Homo sapiens: one gene and its partners. The protein of the gene in region 1 purifies or fractionates together with the protein of each later gene. This does not show direct contact. Each region holds a gene or a part of one and is shown in the gene's direction. Other genes may lie near its edges.

Region 1 (3,528 bases):
CCAAGAGTCTGTGTTAAGTGCTTCGGAAAATGACCAATTATGTTGTATCTAAGTGAATGAAAAGGTTGGTAGCAATGTCATCTCAAAATGCATAAAATATATTCTCCAAGAACAAATGACATTAATGTGCAAAAGACACGCAAAATCTCTGTTAGAGTGCCTTTTCTTGATTTCCTTAGCCTGTAGTTTTGTGAGCACAAAAAAGGTTTGCTATCAGCAGTTGAAATACTGTGGAATAGCACATTAATACACTAATATGACTTTGGAGATTTTGGCCAACCCTCTTAGCAATGAAATATGTTCTTGTAATTTAAGCTGACACTCCTAATTTAGCTCTTGTCCTCTACTGAGTCTACCTAATTATATGTATGGATTGACTTGGTGTTTTCTCTTTTTCTTAAATAGTAATGCAGAAAGCCTGGAGAGAGAGAAACCCCCAAGCTAGGATTTCTGCAGCTCATGAAGCCTTGGAGATAAATGAGTAAGTGGGGGAAAATCTTGCTGTTAAAAAGGAAATCTCATCCTTTGCTGAATATATTCAGTTGCCATTGATAGGATACTTAAATTAAACTGCATTTGAACTGGAGGATTATTTGGGGAGTTATTACTCTATTTAAAAAAGTTTTTTTTTTAAATGAAGGACAGCCACCATGTGGAGGTGGTTTTAGTCATTTTATGAATTCAATGGCTTTGCTGTGATCCTAAATTAATTTCTTGAAGGGCTATCCCTAGGATATTGTGAGGATATAAAATAAATACAATTCTTTACATATCTAAAACATTCTGACAGGGAAAATTTTCCAGATGTAGAATGCTCATCTGCACTAGAACATTTTCTAGTAGAACTTCTGCTAGTGGGGAAAACATGATAACAACATAAGGTTTAAAAAAAAAATTTTAGAAAATACTTCAAGATTAAGACAAAGATAAGAGGAAATGCTGTCTTGAGTGTTGTTAAACATTCTGTGGGTTACCAAGGAAGGCTGGGAAATCTCTTCTGGAGATCTCAGAAAATGAGAAAGATTCTTAAAGTTGGAGTCATAAAAACTCAGGGTTGGCAGAGACCTTAAAGGTCACTTAGCTGAACCACCCATCTGGTGCTTGAATCACCTCAACACTATCCTTGCCAAGTGGTCATTGTTAAACTATTTTATGATTTTTCTGAAGAAGGTTACAGAATCTTCTTCAGAGATCTTAGGGAAAAAAAAAAAAGATTGTCGTGAGAGTTGAAAATCCTGCCATTGTAACCAGTTGATCTACGGTTTCTGATTCTGTCATGCAACATATTTATTTTCCAGTTTCTTGTCATCTACAAATTCGATATGCCTGCCTTCTGTGTGTCATCCATATTTCTGAGAAAAATATGAAGGCCAGGAATAGAGCCCTGTGACATGACATAGAAACTACCCTCCAGGTTCATGTCTTCATGAATCACCATCTTTTGTATTGTTCACTCAATTACTAAGCCACCCAGTTACACTGTGACTCAGCTCATATTTCTCCATTTGGATCTTAAGAATGCCAATCGTAGCTGCGGATCTTAAATTTATAGTAAATCTATTACAGTAAATTAAGCTAGCACAATCTGATTTATTTATTCTTAGTGAATATAAGCTGGCTTCTAGTCGTCACTACTTTCTTTTTAAAGTGCTTGGAGACCATTCCTTTAATAATCCATTAGAATATCTTTCCAAATCACTGTGTTCTGTAGTTTGGGAAGTCTGCCTTCTTCCCCTTTTTGAAAATTTATGCTACATTTATCATCTCATCTTCTAGCACCTCTCCATTCTTTGTGATTCCTCAACTATCCACAGAGAGCAATTCCATGGCCTGCCTACAAGGTCTTTCGGTTTCCTGGGATTTGCCCATCCAGTCCAGTAATTCATTTAGAATGGATCAATTATTTGCTATCTTACATCTTTTTACCCATTTTAGAGTTTAATTTCTTCTCCCTTTTTCAGTCTGACAGTCATTCTCCTTGATAGAGAAGCCAGGAACAAAATAGGAGGGAGAGAGTTTTGCTTTTTCTTTATTATCTACTGCTTTTAACAATAAACCTTCCTTGTTTTGATGTTATTATGTTGTTTGTCTTTTTTTTTTACTTATTTGCCTTTGTGACATGGGGACGGTGATAGGGCCTTAAATATAATTTTAAAATAGGGAATAAATGGTTGTCTTTAGTATTTTATTTTGTTTTATTATTATTATTATTATTGTTATTTTTGCAAGCTTCAGCTAATTTGGAATTGTAGCTCTCCTGACATTATTCTTATAAGCTCATTCCACTCTCTTATAGACCATCATTACATGCCCTCTTTCCATCTTTTAAAATATGTCCTTTAAAAATCTGACCTGGGAGAAATCTCTGTGAAGCCGTGTTGGTTACTTAAGTGCCACCCCTCTTTTCTTCCTGAGAGGATCATTTGTGATTGCAGTTACAGTTGAACATTTGGAAGCTGCTCAACCCTCTTAAACCATTTTTCCTTCTGAATCTCATGCCATTGAATCATGCCTCTTTTCTTTGAATTTTTTGAAGTCCACCTTCCCCTCTTTGATTACCCTGAACTCCGAAATGACATAGTGACTCTCTCTGAATGTTCCTATCAATTTTCATTTTACCAACTATTTTTTTCTTCTTGGTCAGAATTAGGTCCAGAGTTGAAGTTCCCCTAATTGCTTCCTCTACCATCTGGGAGATAAAATTGTTACCAAAGTAAGTCAAGAACCTGTTGGGTGCCCTACTTCTAACCAAATGAGACTTCTAGTGGATATCTGGATGGTTGACACCCCCATCACCACACTTTCTTGCTTCTGTATGTGTATTGTGTTGTGACAAGGATGCATCATCTATATCTTCCATCGAGCTGAGCAGTCTGTTCTGTACTCCCCAACCATTAGCACTTCTATTGCTCTCTCCTTTTTCCTTCACTCACAAGCTCTTAGCATGTTTCTATCCCAAACTCATGCGTTTCCACATAGATGTATGTTTCTTGGCCAGTAGTGCTACTCTGCCTCTCCTCCTAAGAATACCATTTGAAATATAAATAAGCAAAGCAAGCAAGCTAGCCCCAACCATTCTTGGGTTCCCAGCCCAACAACTACAATCTTATAGCTAATTCCTCTGATACTGTATCTACCACTCAGTATTACAATCTCAATTTTCACTTCATTACCCTTGCCTCATATTTATATGTTGGCATCTGAAGCCTTAAGCATTTCTTCTGATGCCTGTCCCAGTTATTTTCTCCAGTGAATCACTTGTATAGTTTCAGCATCATTATGGTTCTTTCCAAGTCATGGATGCTGCCATCTGTAGAAATTGGTTTTATAGCTGTTTTTCTGGGCATTTTTCTCCCTACCTCACCACATTGTTTAAAGCCCCATTGATGGTTCCTGCCTGAAATTAGAGAGACTGGCTAAAGACCTTACAGACCCTTCCTAAGGCTAAGATTAACTAGTAGCCCCAGCCCTTACATTAGCTGTGAAGTTCAGCCTCCTTTTCCTAGCTGGCTATTGCAGTTTGTGGAC
Region 2 (3,528 bases), on another chromosome or scaffold:
ACTTGGCCTCCTGAGTAGCTAGGACTATAGGTGCACACCACCACACCCAACTAATTTTTTTTTTTTTTTTTAAGCTTTTTGGAGGCAGCTTCCTGAGTAGCTGGGATTACAGGGATTACAGACAGAGCCACAAAGACCTGGCCATTGGGGTTTTATTATATTTGCTTTCTGAATGGGTATTATATGCATATAGTGCAAAATTCAAAAGGTGCAAAAGGGTATACACTAAAAAGAAAATCTCCCCTCACCCTTTCCATCCCTCCCTGCTCCCTCCCCAACTCCTGCTCCCTCCCCAACTCCTGCTCCCTCATTCTTCTCTCCTGATGCAACCACCATTAGCAGTTTTTTTGGGTGGTCTTCCTGGGTCATTCTGTACACATACAAGCATATATACCTACCGCCTCCATCCCTTTTTAAAAAATTCATAGTATATACACTGTTCCCTTGTGTGTTTTTTTTCAAGTAACAGTGTATTTTGGAGATGCACACTGCATGAAGTTCTACCTTATTTATTTATTTATTTATTTACTTACTTACTTACTTACTTACTTTGAGACAGAATCTCGCTCTGTCACTCAGGCTGGAGTGTAGTAGTGCGATCGTGGCTCACTGCAACCTCCCCCTCCCAGCTTCAAGTGATTCTCCTGCCTCAATCTCCCTAGTAGCTGGGATTACGGGCACATGCCACCAGGCTTGGCTAATTTTTGTATTTTTGGTAGAGATGGGGTTTCCCCATGTTAGCCAGGCTGGTCTTGAATTCCTGACCTCAAGTGATCCTCCTGCCTTGGCCTCCCAAAGTGTTGGGATTACAGGCGTCAGCCACGCCGTGCGCAGCCTACCTTATTCTTTTAAATGATGCATACAATTGCATTTCATGGCCGGGCGCGGTGGCTCACGCCTGTAATCCCAGCACTTTGGGAGGCTGAGGCAGGTGGATCACGAGGTCAGGTGTTCAAGACCAGCCTGGCCAAGATGGTGGAACCCTGTCTCTACTAAAAATATAAAAATTAGCCAGGTGCAGTGGTGGGCACCTGTAATCCCAGCTACCTGGGAGGCTGAGGCAGGAGAATTGTTTGAACCCGGGAGGCGGAGGTTGCAGAGAGCCGAGATCGTGCCACTGTACTCTAGCCTGGGTGACAGAGCAAGACTCTGTCTCAAAAAAAAAAAAAAAAGAAAAGATTGCATTTCATGGATGTGAAACAGTTTTTTAGCAATATATCTCAGGAACTTTGCCTTCCTGTGCCATGTTTGTTTCAGGAACAGTTCATATCAGAACTGTGTCTCCCTGAGAAAGCTGCATGCACACGAACCCAGGCCATCGGTGATAGTCATCTTGTGCTCTTATCCTCACAGCTGATACATACTGAGCACTCATCTCTTATTTTGAGAAAAATTCACATAAAATTTACTGTTTTAACCATTTAAAGTGCACATTTCAGCCAGATGCGGTAGCTCACACCTGTAATCCCAGCACTTTGGGAGGCCAAGGCGGGTGGATTGCTTGAGGTCAGGGATTCGAGACTAGGCTGGCCAACATGGTGAAACCCCATCTCTACTGAAAATACAAAAATTAGCCGGGGGTGGTGGTGCGTGCCTGTAGTCCCAGCTATTCGGGAGGCTGAGGCAAGAGAATCACTTGAACTGGAAGGCAGAGTTTGCAGTGAGCTGAGATTGCACCACTGCACTCCAGCCTGGGCAACAGAGTGAGACTCCGTCTCAACAAAAAACATAAATAAATAAATAAATAAAGTGCACATTTCAGGGTTTTTTTTTTTTTTTTAGCATATTGACAATGTTCTTCAACCATCTCCATTCTCTAATTCAGAATATTTTCATCACTCCAAAAAGAAACCACATAACCATTAAACAGTCACTTCTTATTCTCTCCCCAATGTTGCCCTTGGCAACCACTGATCTACTTTCTGCTTCTCTGGATTTGCGTATTCTGGACTTATAAATGTATACGTGGTCTTTTACACTTAACCTTGTTACACTTTGCATAATGTTTCTGAGGTTCATCCATGTTGTAGCATATATCACAACTTCAGTTTTTTAAATAACTGGATGATATTCCATAAATATACTGTACAATGTTTATCTATTCATCAACTGATGGACATTTATTGGGTTGTTACCATGTATATATAAACCTTTTTTTTTTTTTTTTTTTGAGATTGAGTCTTGCTCTGTTGCCCAGGCTGGAATGCAGTGGTGCAATCTCGGCTCACTGCAACCTCTGCTTCCCAGGTTCAAGTGATTCTCGTGCCTCAGTCTCCTGAGTAGCTGGGACTACAGGCGCATGCCACCATGCCCAACTAATTTTTCTGTTTTTAGTAGAGACGGGGTTTCGCCGTGTTGCCCAGGTTGGTCTTGAACTCCTGGGCTCAAGAAATCCACCTGCCTTGGCCTCCCAAAGTGTTGGGATTACAGGCGTGAGCCACCACCCCAGCCTCCATGTATAAACATTTTTATCAGATTCTTAAAAAGTATTTATTTACTTTTTTTTTTTTTTTTTTTGAGACAGAGTCTTGCTCTGCCACCCAGGCTGGAATGCAGTGGCATGATCTTGGCTCACTGCAACCTCCGCCTCCTGGGTTCAAGCAATTCTCTGCCTCAGCCTCCCGAGTAGCTGGGATTACAGGCGCCTGCCACCATGCCTGGTTAATTTTTGTATTTTTACTAGAGACGGGGTTTCACCCTCTTGGCCAGCCTGGTCTTGAACTCTCCTGACCTTGTGATCTGCCAACCTCTGCCTCCCGAAGTGCTAGGATTACAGGCCTGAGCCACCGTGCCTGGCCACTTTTTTTTTTTTTTAGATGGAGTCTCACTCTGTCACCCAGGCTGGAGTGCAGTGGCATGATTTCGGTTCGCTGCAACTTCTGCCTCCCAGGTTCAAGTGATTCTCTGGCCTCAGCCTCCTGTGTAGCTGGGATTACAGGTGCACGCCACCAAGTCTGGCTAATTTTTATATTTTTAGTAGAGACAGGGTTTCACCATATTGGTCATGCTGGTCTTGAACTCCTGGCCTCAAGTGATCTGCCTGCCTTGGCCTCCCAAAGTGCTGAGATTACAGGTGTGAGCCACTGTGCCCAGCCTGTTGTTTTCTCTCTTGAGACAGAGTCTCACTTTATCACCCAGGCTGGGGTGTAGTGGCTCGTCTCAACTCACTGCAACCTCCACCTCCCAGGTTCAAGTAATTCTTGTGCCTTAGCCTCCTGAGTAGCTGGGATTATTGAGGTGCGTGTCACCACACCCAGCTAACTTTTTTTATTTTTGGTAGAGACAGGGTTTTGCTATGTTGGCCAGGCTGGTCTCGAACTCCTGGCCTCAAGTGATTCTCCCGCCTCCACCTCCCACGGTGCTGGGATTACAGGCGTGAGCCAGTGCTCCTAGCCAGGACTTTTTTTATATACAAAGAAGAAATGTCAGGGAGTGCCTGTTTAAAGTAGAAATAGTTATATATGCAGTAGGAATTGTTCATTTAAAATACAAGCATCTCCATCCTACCACATTTAGGAGCTATGCTGA
Region 3 (3,528 bases), on another chromosome or scaffold:
TGGCTCCTCGTAGCAACATGTGACCTTAGAAGGAGGCACATGTGAGACGAAGTCTTTAATTCAGGCATGCATTCATTCATTGAGTGCCAAGTGACAGGTATTTTATGGTGATGCCATACTCAGAGCTTGCAGTCTAGCTAGCAATACCAATTTCATTTTACTGAGAGCTTATGATGTGCCCAGCACTGCACTGAATGCTGAATTGAGTCACACACAACCCCCTAAGCAACGGGATGAAGCAGGAGCACGTTTCTCTCCGTGTAACCGGTAAAGATACTGATGCTAAGAGAAGCTAAGGAGCTGGCCCAAGAAACCCAGCCAGCACGTGGCAAGGCCCACGCAGAATCCAGCCCAAGCCCCTGGACCCAGCCACCACTCCGCTGCCTGCACTCAGGTGGGCCTGGCTTATGACAAATATCACCTTTCCCTGTTCCCGCATTAGGACCTCACTGAGACCTTGAAGTCTGAGCTCAGTGGCAAGTTTGAGAGGCTCATTGTGGCCCTTATGTACCCGCCATACAGATACGAAGCCAAGGAGCTGCATGACGCCATGAAGGTAACCAGGCAGACAGGGCAGGGGAGTGGCAGGGGTGCTCACATGACTGGGTAGGGGCAATGCGGGGACCGGGAACCTACAGCCCAGAGCTCCCCTTGAGCCACTGTTTGGAATGGCCATATGGGCCATAACTGGGCCCAGTGAGCAGGCAGCCTGCTGCTCAGACTGCACCCAACACCTGGAGTCACTGGTGCCTGATTGACACGTTGAGTGGCCGTGATGAAGCCAAAATCAGTACTTCTCAGAACCTCACGAGCTCAGGTGTACAGTGGTATTGGAAACCCACCTCTACAGTCCCAGGCACAGCCCCTTGGGTTTCCCTTTACCTCTCACTACTCTTTGCTTTTGCAGATTAATAAGGATGGGGACCCAGTAACTATAGTCATTTTGTTTGGAAAGACACTTGCTGCATGGGCACTGCCAGGCATTTTACACCCACGCTCCCTAATCTATCTTTGGCGCAGGGGAGGCTTCTTATTCCTGTTTATGGATCGGGATGCTTAGGCTCCAGGACATGGAGCAGCCTGTCTGAGACCACCCAGCTAAGGAGGGAGAGCTGAGACAGGGCTTCCCCGTCACAGCACTTGCCCTCAATGTTCATCACTGAAGCATGTGATTTTCTCATCACATCCTCCCACTTCAAGTGGGGCAGGGCAGTGAGGTCCTTCCTGAGGCTCAGGCATCTTGAGAAAAGAAGGTGTGGACAGAGCAGAAGGTCATGGCAGAGCACTCCAGCAGGCAGAGGTTTCTGTCCACAGGGCTTAGGAACCAAGGAGGGTGTCATCATTGAGATCCTGGCCTCTCGGACCAAGAACCAGCTGCGGGAGATAATGAAGGCGTATGAGGAAGGTAAGGGGTGGCACAGATGGAGGGGCTCAGGAGTGGCCACAAGCTTTGGCAGCCTGGCAGGGAACAAGGATCAAGAATTAACCTGGGCCACACTAGAAAGGACCCTTTGGGGACTTTTTTACCCACAGGTGCTGAGCACCTACCGTATGCCAAGATCTGTGCCTGATGGTGACACTGAACATGATTCAGACTTGATCTGTAAGCTCACCAGCTCCTCTTACAGGGGAGAGAGGCCTGTGACCAACTAAAATCTCTGCCCTTGAGGACTGTGGTAGTAGGGGGTGTGGACCCCAGGCTAGCAGAGGCCAGTCAGTCCTCCACATCATGTACCTAGTGGGGAGTTTTCCTGGAGGCTTTGGCTTTGCCAAGCCTTGAGATGAAATGGAGCTTGGTTGGCAGCCCCTAGCCTGGCTCTCTGACCTGGTCCATCTTGTGCTTTGAGCTTGGTTGGGTACGCATGTCGCTTCTAGTTGTGAAGCACCACCCAGGCGACAGCCACTTGGACACCCGGGCATTGCATCCATGCCCTGTGCCAAGGACTTTCTTTCCTAGAAGGCTTTAATAAGGAGAAGTATGGGGAACAGGGCTGGAAGGAGGAAAGCAGGCCCCGGGTAGGCTGTGGGCCTCTGCTTGTGCCTCATGGTCCTGTTTCCCTGCAGACTATGGGTCCAGCCTGGAGGAGGACATCCAAGCAGACACAAGTGGCTACCTGGAGAGGATCCTGGTGTGCCTCCTGCAGGTGTCACAGCCTAGGCTCTTGGGAGTGCCTTGGTTTGGGAGTCCCAACAGCTCCACCCCAGGGAGCAGCCCTTGAATAGCGCCACAAGAGTCAGGGTAGGGGCATGGGATAGCCCAGCAGCCAGGGCTCATTGGGTGTGTCTCAGCATGGTTAGAGGGTCCCAACTGCAGAGCCCCCACACCTGTCCTTACTCAGCCATGTGAGAGCATCCTGGAAGCGGGAGGAGAGCAGGTCCTTCGTGCAGGCCTCATGCCAGGCACTTTGCTTACCTTAGCTCACTGAATCCGCCAAGCCTTATGAGGCAGTCCTTACCACCCCCATTGTACAAATGAGGAAACCAAGGGCTGAAGAGAATAACTGGCTTGTCGAAGTTTCCACAGCCAAAGAGCAGCAGAGCCATGCCTGCCCTCCAAGCCCAGGATCCCCCCTGTGCCCTTAATGCTCTGGTCAGCTGGCCTGCCTTACAGAGCCACCTCCTCTGTTCCTAGGGCAGCAGGGATGATGTGAGCAGCTTTGTGGACCCAGGACTGGCCCTCCAAGACGCACAGGTGAGGCTGCGCCCAGCCGGCCATGTGGCCCCACCCCCTGCCATCTGGACTCCGGCTCCTCTGCCCACGGGGGCTTTCTCTGACACTGGGCTGGGACCCACCCAGCTCAGCTCCCTATAGGCCTTTGTCCTGTGGTGTCTGGGGAGGAGAGTGAGGGTGTTGGGAGACTCGGGAGGAAGGAGTGTGACTTGGGGGTGGGGGAGCACTAAAGCTCTGTCCTGGCAGGAACAGCCCATGAACCCGGGGGCGCTAGGCCCCAGTGCTGGACACAGGTGTCCGGGTCTCTGTAGGTCTGCCTGCTGGCAGAGGGAAGTCTGGGGACCAGGCAGTTCCTAGAGCAGCTTGTGGCCCAGGATAGAGAAAATATTCTAAGCCAGAGCTGCTAGAGAAAGGGGAGCTCCCTGTCAGAGACGACCAAGCAGGGGAGCATGCTGGCCTGGCAGAGTGGACAGGGCCAGGCCATGGCCACAGCTCTGGGACTCTGGGGCTCAGTCCCTCACCTCCCTGGTCTCCCTCACTGGCTTATTGTGGGTGTCCCAATGCTAGGATCTGTATGCGGCAGGCGAGAAGATTCGTGGGACTGATGAGATGAAATTCATCACCATCCTGTGCACGCGCAGTGCCACTCACCTGCTGAGAGGTACCAGGGAGGGAGGGGCTGGGGCCGGGGCCACAGGGGGTGTCCTGGCCATGAGCCTCTCCCTCGTGCTTCTGCCTTGTCAAGTCTAGAGTTAGGGAGAGAGCCAGGGAGCCCAGGACTGTTTCCCCAGCCACCAGTGGGAGGTCAGGGCGGCAAATTGATGTGCGATCTCTGATCCGAGACACTGAGGGGCATC
Region 4 (3,528 bases), on another chromosome or scaffold:
CGACACTGTAACCCCAATGGAACATGGGATTTTATGCACAGCTTAAATAAAACATGGGCCAATTATTCAGACTGCCTTCGCTTTCTGCAGCCAGATATCAGCATAGGAAAGGTAATGGAATTTCTCTATTTGTGAATTCCTAAGGGAAAGCAGAATAATATTTTAATGCAATTCTCAATTGCCAGCCATTATGTATAAAAACCCTCTTATTCCACGACACAAGGATCATAAAAGATAAAAGCAATGTTGCAATCTTTTCAGATGCATATCAATCATTCTGGTATTTTCTATAGCCTAGAGCTACCTGGCTGAGATACATACATCCATACTTATACCTGTGTGTGTGTTATGTTTATTATGTTAGATTACATTGTTTACTTGCATTATATTATGCTATATTATGAATAAAAATCCCAATAGGTGGTTAGTAACATGATTCATGATTTCTTCTTAGTTACCTATGAATGGCTACATCTCATCTGTATATTCCAGAAGGACCTTTGCATTTTAGAGGTGTATTTTCCACCTCATAAGATTTACCAATAGATGATCTCATTAGCGTATAAAAGATTAGAGTTTTAGGATTAAAGGGGAGCAAGGGGCATCATATAAATCTTCCAGCACAATATATTAATTTCAGAGATGTGAGTCAACTGAGAACCCGAGATTAGGTGTTGGTCAAAGTGACATAGCTCAGTGGCAAGAGGGTTTAATGTAGAGCCCTTATGTCCCAATTTCACATCAGTGCTGTTTCCAATATAGAAATCATATATAAACTTTGGGATATTCTAGAGAGTTGCTTTTAAGTTATAAAAGTTGGTTTAAAAGTCATGTTTAAATTTATATCACTTAGACCTCGTGAGTAAAAATGCATGATGATATATGCATATGATGCTAAGAGTTAATGTGATAAATTAGCTTTATGAAAACCCTGAGAATAGTCCATCACACATAAACTCTTCGAATTTTTGACATATTTCTTTATGTCTGGTGATGTTTTGGGGAGGTGGGGGGAGAACAGCAGCAAGAGAAGTAGTGAGTTGAAGGTTTCTTTGATTTTGCATTAATAGAACTTCCTGTCTTAACTTTCTTCCTTAATGAGTTCTTTAGGAATTGGCAGAAAGACTTTCAGTTATCTGTTTAATTGTTGAAAAGCTTCTTAGATAAAATAAGTCAATATGAGGAGATTGTTAGGTACTCTACAATGGAACTAACATAAGTAACATCAACATTCAGTTAAGCTAAAATGCTTCAAAAGAATTTCAGTCTCATTGATAGAAACAAACATTCACTGATACTTAGTGTACTCTGTGATTATCTTCATTTTTGCATTACATGATGAAAAATGCAAACCTTTCAGAGCTGTTAATGGCCATTAAATTAAATCATGGTTTTATTTATATTGAACTCTAATCTTATAACCATTTTCTGTGATTACTGTGTATTTTAAGAATAAAAATAACTAAAGATGGTTGATGTACTCAATATATATACTAGTTTATGTAAAATGATTTAAAAGTTAATAGAAAATTTGAAGAATTGTGTTAGTATAATTTAATCTCCTTAATTAAAAACACAAAAAATGTTTTCTATTGTTTGCAACCTTTAAGTAATAATTTGGAAAAACCCAAGAAAACAAAATATGTCTAATAAGAAAACTAGATATCTCCTGAAGGTTTGACACACAGTAGGGCAAAATGATATTACTTATTTGTGAGATATAAATTATTAATAGTTAATAAAATTTTTTTATAAGGAAGGAAAGGCAAAAAACTAAAAAAGTGTAAATTTAGAATAAATGCCACATTTTTATCAGGAAAATAAGATATTTTTGAGCACTATTTTTTTCTCTAAATTTTTATATAATTGGCTTGGCAAAATGAGGTAATTATTTTAGTTAAAAAAAGGGAAGGAATTCTAATGATGTCACAAGATTATTAAATTTTTTAGAGTGTGATATTTAAAACAGTAGCATACTGTAGAAACTACCATATAATACATCTCCTATCCAAAGGCTAGATGTACTTTTGGAAAGCCATTTAGCAGTATATATTTAAAAACTTCAAAGGAATAATATTTTTTGATCTTATAAATTTACTTCTAAAATCAAGCATAAGGATTTAGAATGGGGGAACTGAATGGAAAAAATGTTCATTGAACAAATAATTATAATGAATGTTTCAACGAGTTTAAATTTCTAATGAAGAACTGGTTAAATAAGCGCAAATATATGCATATAAATTTTATAAAGAGTTTGCAGCCTTGGGCAATTATTTTGTCACACAAAAAATTCAGGAATAAACTTGTATATAAATTGAGAATGCAGATGCTTAAAATAATAGGCAATGCTTCACAGAAATAGAATGAAATGAAATAGATGAAGTACTAGCTGGGCATAGTGGCCTGTGTCTGTAGTTGCAGCTACTTGGGAGGCTGGGGTGGGAGTTCAAGATCAGCCTGGGCAACATAGGGAGATGCCATCTCTTAAAGTCATAACAATAACAACTTCAAGAAATATGTGAAGTACATGAAGTACTAACAGTGTTTCTTTCTGATTGGTTAGAATTTGTAAGATTTTTTTTCTCCTCTCTTTTATGTTTTACACATTATTCAAATATTTTCTATGAAAAGTTTTACTATTTTATTAAGAGAAAATAATAAGTAATTAATATTTTTTTTAAAAGAAACAAGAGGCAAAGTCTTCCTGCTTCCAGTCAGATTGTAGGCAGTCGCAACAATAAGTTGGCTTAGATGCAAAATTAATAATTTGTAAACATGAGTTGAGGATGCCAAGAAATCTAAATGAACTAAATTCCAGAAATGGGCAAGCCCTTCCTATGAGAGAAGAGACCCATGGCTGCGTGTATCCCTAGGACCACAGTAGAAGGGGAGAAAACAGGCTATTGAAGGGGACAAAGAGAAAAGAGACAAGCTTTTATACCAATAGCAGACAAGGGCTAGCATAAAGAGTTAGAATCCCAAGGAGTAAGCCCTAGTCTTAGTAAGCTATAATCCACCAGGCAATTCTTTGCCGTGAGGTCTTCACCGAGTGCATGGGGGAAGTATGCCAAAGGCTGGGGCAGGCAGAGGGCTCAGAGAAATTCCTTGAGATGTGCACAGGGCTCTCACAGAGTGAAAGGCAGCAGTTGGCTGAAGGCATGGATCAGGACAGAGGAGCTGAGAGGCATCCCTTGAGGCACAGGGGGCCCTCACTAACTGCATGACTGATGCAGCCCACAGGCCAGGAGAAGGGCAGGGAAGCTGAGACAAATCCCCTAGAGATGCATAGTTCCCAGTGAGCACAAGGCAGCAGCCAATTGCAAGACCAGGCCCCTGAACTTCTGAGTAACCACCTTCAAGTTGGGGTTCCCACGAACCCCTCTTTAGGCTTGATTAATTGCTAGAACAGCTCACATAACTCAGAGAAACACTTACGTTTCCTATATATTATTATAAAGGATATTTTAAAGGATACAAATAAACAGCCAGGTGAAGAGACATATAGGGCGAAGTCTGGAAGAGTCTGAA

The links.
Region 2: the proteins of ST7 (region 1) and XRCC1 purify together in Homo sapiens (affinity purification with mass spectrometry; one large-scale study listed by BioGRID and IntAct). This does not show direct contact.
Region 3: the proteins of ST7 (region 1) and ANXA8 purify together in Homo sapiens (affinity purification with mass spectrometry; one large-scale study listed by BioGRID and IntAct). This does not show direct contact.
Region 4: the proteins of ST7 (region 1) and PTH2R purify together in Homo sapiens (co-immunoprecipitation; one large-scale study listed by IntAct). This does not show direct contact.

Annotation. Positions count from the first base shown.
Region 1 is NC_000007.14:117,131,480-117,135,007, forward strand, and holds part of ST7 (suppressor of tumorigenicity 7 protein), read left to right. Parts: intron 1-405; coding exon 406-481; intron 482-2,644; coding exon 2,645-2,713; intron 2,714-3,528. UniProt on the Homo sapiens protein: May act as a tumor suppressor.
Region 2 is NC_000019.10:43,565,521-43,569,048, reverse strand, and holds part of XRCC1 (DNA repair protein XRCC1), read left to right. Parts: intron 1-3,528. UniProt on the Homo sapiens protein: Scaffold protein involved in DNA single-strand break repair by mediating the assembly of DNA break repair protein complexes. Negatively regulates ADP-ribosyltransferase activity of PARP1 during base-excision repair in order to prevent excessive PARP1 activity.
Region 3 is NC_000010.11:47,474,109-47,477,636, reverse strand, and holds part of ANXA8 (annexin A8), read left to right. Parts: exon of another isoform or gene 1-394; intron 395-442; coding exon 443-556; exon of another isoform or gene 557-557; intron 558-1,314; coding exon 1,315-1,405; intron 1,406-1,533; coding exon of another isoform or gene 1,534-1,571; exon of another isoform or gene 1,572-2,046; intron 2,047-2,064; coding exon 2,065-2,144; intron 2,145-2,632; coding exon 2,633-2,692; intron 2,693-3,238; coding exon 3,239-3,332; intron 3,333-3,528. UniProt on the Homo sapiens protein: This protein is an anticoagulant protein that acts as an indirect inhibitor of the thromboplastin-specific complex, which is involved in the blood coagulation cascade.
Region 4 is NC_000002.12:208,437,771-208,441,298, forward strand, and holds part of PTH2R (parathyroid hormone 2 receptor isoform 1 precursor), read left to right. Parts: coding exon 1-111; intron 112-3,528. UniProt on the Homo sapiens protein: This is a specific receptor for parathyroid hormone. The activity of this receptor is mediated by G proteins which activate adenylyl cyclase. PTH2R may be responsible for PTH effects in a number of physiological systems.